Regions from separate parts of the Homo sapiens genome. Here region 2 is linked to region 1. The links come from fine-mapping of genetic effects on gene expression. A gene starts in region 1. The other region holds a variant in brackets. All regions are shown on one strand. Distances are between the middles of the regions. Region 1 holds the start of MAOA (monoamine oxidase A). Region 2 overlaps MAOA (monoamine oxidase A).

Region 1 (2,923 bases):
GAGGGCCCGCCCGAAGCCGGGGGCACAACTGCCCAGGTCCCGAACCCGGACTCCAGCTTGGACGACACCTCCTACAGCCTGTCCGAATGGAGCGTCCGTTCTGAGTGGCGGTCCGTCTCGGATCCGCTAGCCAGTTCCCAGTGGAGCACGTCCTCAACTGCCGAGGCCGCCTCCTGGAGCTCCAGCATACACTCCCCAATCAGCACTACCGGTCTTAGCGAGAGTACTGACTCCGACTCCAAGAGTGGCCTCCGGGGTTTCAGCGCTTACAACCCGAGCAGTCGGATCCCCAAGTCTACCACCAGCTCGAACTCCTCCGATGGGGCCGTCACAGCCTCCAATCAGGACACCGGCATTCCCTGGGTATTAGTAACAGGACCTACCCCGCCCGTAAACTCCCCCGTAGAGTCATTGCAAGGGTCTGCCTTCTCCTCAGGGTTCAGCACCCCACGGGGTTTGGTAAAAGGACCGACCCTGCCCCCGGATTCCAACCTGACCTCAGTGTCCGACTACACTTGGATATTTGTACGGGGACCTCCTATACCCAATGACCTTTCGCAAGTGTCAATACAAGCACCTCCTACACCCAGTAACACCCCCGAGTGTCAGTACAAGGGTCTGCCGCATCCTCAGTGTCCAGCTTCCCCTGGGGTTTGGTACCAGGACCACCTCTACCCAATAACATTTCCCCAGTGTCGCCACAAGCACCTCCTGCACCCCATAACATCCCCCCAGTGTCAAGGCAGGCGTCTACCCCCACCTCAGTGCCTGACACTCCGCGGGGTTCAATACAAGAACCTCCTGCACCCAGTAATCCTTTCCAGCTGCCGACACAAGGACATTCTAAACCTAATAACTCTCGCCGAGTGTCAGTACAAGGGTCCGCCCCGCTCTCAGTGCCCAGCTCCCCCCGGGTATCAGCTGAAACATCAGCTCCGCCCCTGGGCGCTCCCGGAGTATCAGCAAAAGGGTTCGCCCCGCCCACAGTGCCCGGCTCCCCCCGGGTATCAAAAGAAGGATCGGCTCCGCCCCCGGGCTCCCCGGGGGAGTTGATAGAAGGGTCCTTCCCACCCTTTGCCGTCCCCACTCCTGTGCCTACGACCCAGGAGCGTGTCAGCCAAAGCATGGAGAATCAAGAGAAGGCGAGTATCGCGGGCCACATGTTCGACGTAGTCGTGATCGGAGGTGGCATTTCAGGTCAGTGTGGACCGTAGCGGTGGCCTGGGGGACCCTGGCCAGTGAGGGGTAGGGGAACCTACAGTAGCTCTTGTGGTGTTTGGGGGTCTCTCATGCATGCGAGAGTGTAGTGTAGCCATGGCTTGGCCCCATATCCTGCGAGGTAGGAGTGGGGGTTGTGCCAGTTTTGCTGGTGGTGTGACTGGGGGAGGCAGACACAATAATTTTACTACTACTACTATTAAATACTAATATTTAATTAGCTCTTGCTGTGCAGTTGTATTTAGCACTTTACGTGGATTTTCTCAGTCCTCAACAGTCCTGTGAGGTGGGAACTAAATTCATCCCCGTTTTGCAAAACCAAGAAACTGAGGTCTGGGGAGTTTCAATAACTCTCTTGAGGTCGAATCACCTAGCTTGTAAGTGGCTGAACGATTTTCTCCCATTTAAGACCTGCAGTACTAATTCCTGAGGTGGCTGCTTTGCCTCACTGATTTCATATCCTTTGCCCTAAACAGAACATCAGGATACAGATTTCTGTAGTATTGAGGGAGCAGTAGTGTTATTCCAGTCCTGCTCTTCTCTATTTTCCGTAGAAAATTTAGTAGGTGAAGAGGAAGGAGGTAGACTCCTTTAAGAAAAGGTTAAAAAAAAAAAGAGGAGAAGAGGGGGTGAGCTCTTAAACTATTCCTGTGTGTGTGTGTGTGTGTGTGTGTGTGTGTGTGTGTATGAACTGTGTTTATATATATATATGAACTGTGTTTATATATATATATGAACTGTGTTTATATATATATATGAACTGTGTTTATATATATATATGAACTGTGTTTATATATATATATGAACTGTGTTTATATATATATATATGAACTGTGTTTATATATATATATATATGAACTGTGTGTGTGTATATATATATATGAACTTGCAGGAAGGTGTAGGACATTTATTGTCCAAAGAGAATCCCTTTATGAAGCAGGGGCTGAGTGCCCTGTTGTATCCTCCTTCCTCCTTTCACTAAGAGCTCCCACCACCTGAATCTTGTCTTCTGATGAGCCAGTTGGTGGGCCAGGGTGCCCCTGGTCCTGGCTTGGATTTGTGGCTAACCAAGTGAGTGGTGCATGAGGCTTTCCAATATCTTCCTGGAAGCCTCATCATGATTGATATATTGTCGCCTATGTTGCCATCATTGGTAAAATGTTTGAAAATTAGGAATTTTGTTGCCTTTCATCCCTGGCTAGAATACCACACTGACCTATCCTCCCCCTACTAGGTGTTAATAATTTCTGAGTTATCCCTGCAGGATCTGATTCAGAAAGAGAAAGCTGATGGGAGGGAGTAAGTAGAGTGGCCCCACAGTAGCCATTTTTATATATAAATCTTTCGAGGAGACTCTGAACATGCTACAAATTAATGTTGGGTAGAGATAGCTTTATCTGAACCCAACATTGTTTATCCTGAACAGGCCAAGAGAAGAGATTGGCATGAACTGTTGCTTTGCCAGTTCCAGCCAGTACCAGCAAAAACATACATGTATGTTGGAGCATCAGAGGAAAGCAGCTCCTGGTGGAGAGTAAGAAAAAGGAGTATTTCAGCTTGTTTCTCTTTATTTATTTATGTATTTATTTATTCATTCAAAAAACACTTGTTGAGTACCTGCAATGAAGTGGACTGCTGTTTCCCAAAATCTGGTCCCACTAGGCAAGCCTCCTAAAAGCAATATGGTTGTAGATCACTGGAAAAT
Region 2 (2,923 bases), 72 kb after region 1:
TTCCCCCAGGTGCTCTGGCCCAAGGAGATGGGGGTTTTATCTATAAGTCCCTGACTGGGGCTGCTGCCTTTTGTTCAGAGATGCCCTGCCCACAGAGGTGGAATCTAGAGAGGCAGTAGGCCTTGCTGAGCTGTGGTGGGGTCCGCCCAGTTCGAACTTCCTGGTGGCTTTGTTTACACTGTGAGCATAAAACTGCCTACTCAAGCCTCAGCAATGGCAGATGCACCTCTCCACACCAAGCTCGAGCATTCCAGGTCGATATCAGGCTGCTGTGCTAGCAGCGAGGATTTCAAGCCAATGGATATTAGCTTGCTGGGCTCCATGGGTGTGGGACCCACTGAGCCAGGCACCGGAGGGAATCTCCTGATCTGCCAGTTGTGAAGACTGTGGGAAAAGCGCAGTATCTGCGCAAGAGTGTACCGTTCTTCCTGGGACAGTCTCTCACAGCTTCCCTTGGCTAGGAAAAGGAAATCCCCCAACCGCTTGCACTTCCCAGGTGAGGCGATGCCCTGCCCTGCTTCGGCTTGCCCTCCATGAGCTGCACCCACTGTCCAACCAGTCCCAATGAGATGAACCAGGTACCTCAGTTGGAAACACAGAAATCACCCACCTTCTGCGCGGATCTCACTGGGAGCTGCAGACCGGAGCTGTTTCTGTTTGGCTGTCTTGCTGGACCCTTGGCTCCTTTTCAACTCATAATTTCTTAAGCAGGAGAAAATGTTAGTTTCTCCAAGAGTTAAAGAATGCATTCCTTCAGAAATTGAATCCTTGAGAGTTTTTTTCAATTGCAACAGAAAAACTTTCTGAACACACTAAATCGTGTTGTAAAAACATGACATTCTCTGACTCCTGTACATATTGACACCTGACTTCCACTTTTGTTCTATGAACAGGACTGCTAGGCGGTTTGCTTATCTTTTTGTGAATATCAATGTGACCTCTGAGCCTCACGAAGTGTCTGCCCTGTGGTTCTTGTGGTATGTGAAGCAGTGCGGGGGCACCACTCGGATATTCTCTGTCACCAATGGTGGCCAGGTATGGTGTGTATGTGTCTGTTCTGAAACAAGAGCTTCATCTGTGATTTTGCTTTCTCCCAGGGCAGTGTCTTTAATAGTTGCTTCAGGATTTTGAAACATGAATAATTAGCAGCATGAAATGATCTCAAAAGATTTTCTGAAAAAAAAATTTCTCATTTCCTTTTGTCACTCCTGAAAAGGAGTTCACAGATAAAGAATGTTTCATTTTGAATTAATTAGGTTTTGAGAATTAAGTTCCTTCCTTTTGGTAGCAGGTAAAATTAGGCTGTTTATGTAGGAGAAGCTAAATTCCTAAAATAATTTCCAAAAAATTCTAGAAATTGTACAATTATTGTACTTAAAATCATCTCTGTTCTAGACACAAGGTTTCTGTCCCATCTGTTTATCAGAGTGATTCTTTTATGTTAACTGCTACAGAAGGGAAGTGACTGTTCTTCCTTCTAATT[C/T]ACGCAAGTGATTATGGCCACTCTTGCAATAGTAAATTCTGCCTTTTGGATTCTTAGTTTTTGCTACCCACTTGAATTTGCCCAGTTTCCATATCATTTCCTTTATTAATAAGTGAATTCATTTCGTTCATTGGCTGGACACATGGCGAAGCCAGAATCCTAATTCCCCAGACTCTGAGATTCTCTGCTTCAACCCTTTCTGTTATCCAAAGAGAATGGGTATCTCTGTTCTATAAATGTTGTGCTTGGATGGTATGAGGTTTAATTAGTAGCAGTTTACTTCTAACTTAGGTTCTCTGAGTTCCTGAATTCTGAGTGCACAGTACAAGGTATAGAGTCTTTCTCTGCCAAGTGAATTATTCTTCTCCTGAGGAGATCACCGGAAATCCCCAAGTTCTTGTGACACCAAGACTCATTGCCCATTTGACCCTTAGCCTTGACAAATGCAGGACAGTTGCATTTTTTAAATGTCTTTACCTACAGGCAGAGATGACAGATTACTCCTTTTAGCCAGTATTTTACTTTCTGAGGTATTTTGATTTACATTTGATATTTGTTTCCTTCATTCAGAGGAGCCAGGATACTTCTAGCCAAATTCTACATGACCTTTTGGAAAATATGGTTCAGATGATTAATCTCAAACCATGGTCACAATATTTTTATAAAGAACTTAGGCTTATCCTGTAATTTAATTCAACAAATACTAGACCTGGAGGGGTGGACAGTGAACAAGACAGAAACAGTTCGTGGTCTTTCCACCACACTAAAACTCAAAGTACCTCTTAGAAAACAGACCAGATTATAAGTTAAATGGTCTGGGTTTCTTGAGGAAAGACAAATCATGAATTTAGGTCTGAACCACTCTGGGAATTTTTTTTCCTTTTTTTAATTTAATTTTTGAGACAGAGTCTTGCTTTGTTGCCTAGCCTGGTCTCCAACTCCTGGGCTCAAGCAGTCCTTCCGCCTCAGCCTCTCAAAGTGCTAAGATCACAGGCATGAGCCACCATGCCTAGCCAGGAATATTTTTTATAAAGAACTTTGGTGTTGTTATTAAAACAGTAGCCAGTTACAAAAGTGCAAAAATCACTGCGTGGCTGCTTATGCAGTTTTCTGGAGGAGTATGATTGAGGAATCTGTTAGGAATCTTCTGGCTGGGCGCGGTGGCTCACACCTGTAATCCCAGCACTTTTGGAGGCCAAGGAGGGTGGATCACCTGAGGACAGGAGTTTGAGACCAGCCTGGCTAACATGATGAAACCCCATTTCTGCTAAAAATACAAAAATTAGCCAGGTGTCATGGCACGCACCTGTAATCCCAGCTACTCGGGAGGCCAAGGCAAGAGAATCACTTGAACCCAGGAGGCGGAAGTTACAGTGAGCCAAGATTGCGCCATTGCATGCCAGCTTGGGCAATAAGAGTGAAACTCCGTCTCAAAAAAAA

Evidence for each region. PIP is the estimated chance that this variant, and not a neighbour inherited with it, causes the effect.
Region 2: its variant is fine-mapped to the expression of MAOA in blood mononuclear cells (TOPMed, PIP above 0.99). The same link has a PIP of 0.9 or more in T cells, monocytes and whole blood.

What each region holds. Positions count from the first base shown.
Region 1 is chrX:43,655,218-43,658,140 of GRCh38, forward strand. It overlaps MAOA (monoamine oxidase A), which reads left to right and starts at 1,082. Exons shown (of 15, transcript NM_000240.4): 1 at 1,082-1,197. The coding sequence starts at 1,125.
Region 2 is chrX:43,727,280-43,730,202 of GRCh38, forward strand. It overlaps MAOA (monoamine oxidase A), which reads left to right. Exons shown (of 15, transcript NM_000240.4): 6 at 894-1,035. Among named protein-coding and RNA genes, the nearest start is that of MAOA, 72 kb to the left of the region's middle. The variant C/T (reference allele first, on the strand shown) is at 1,484.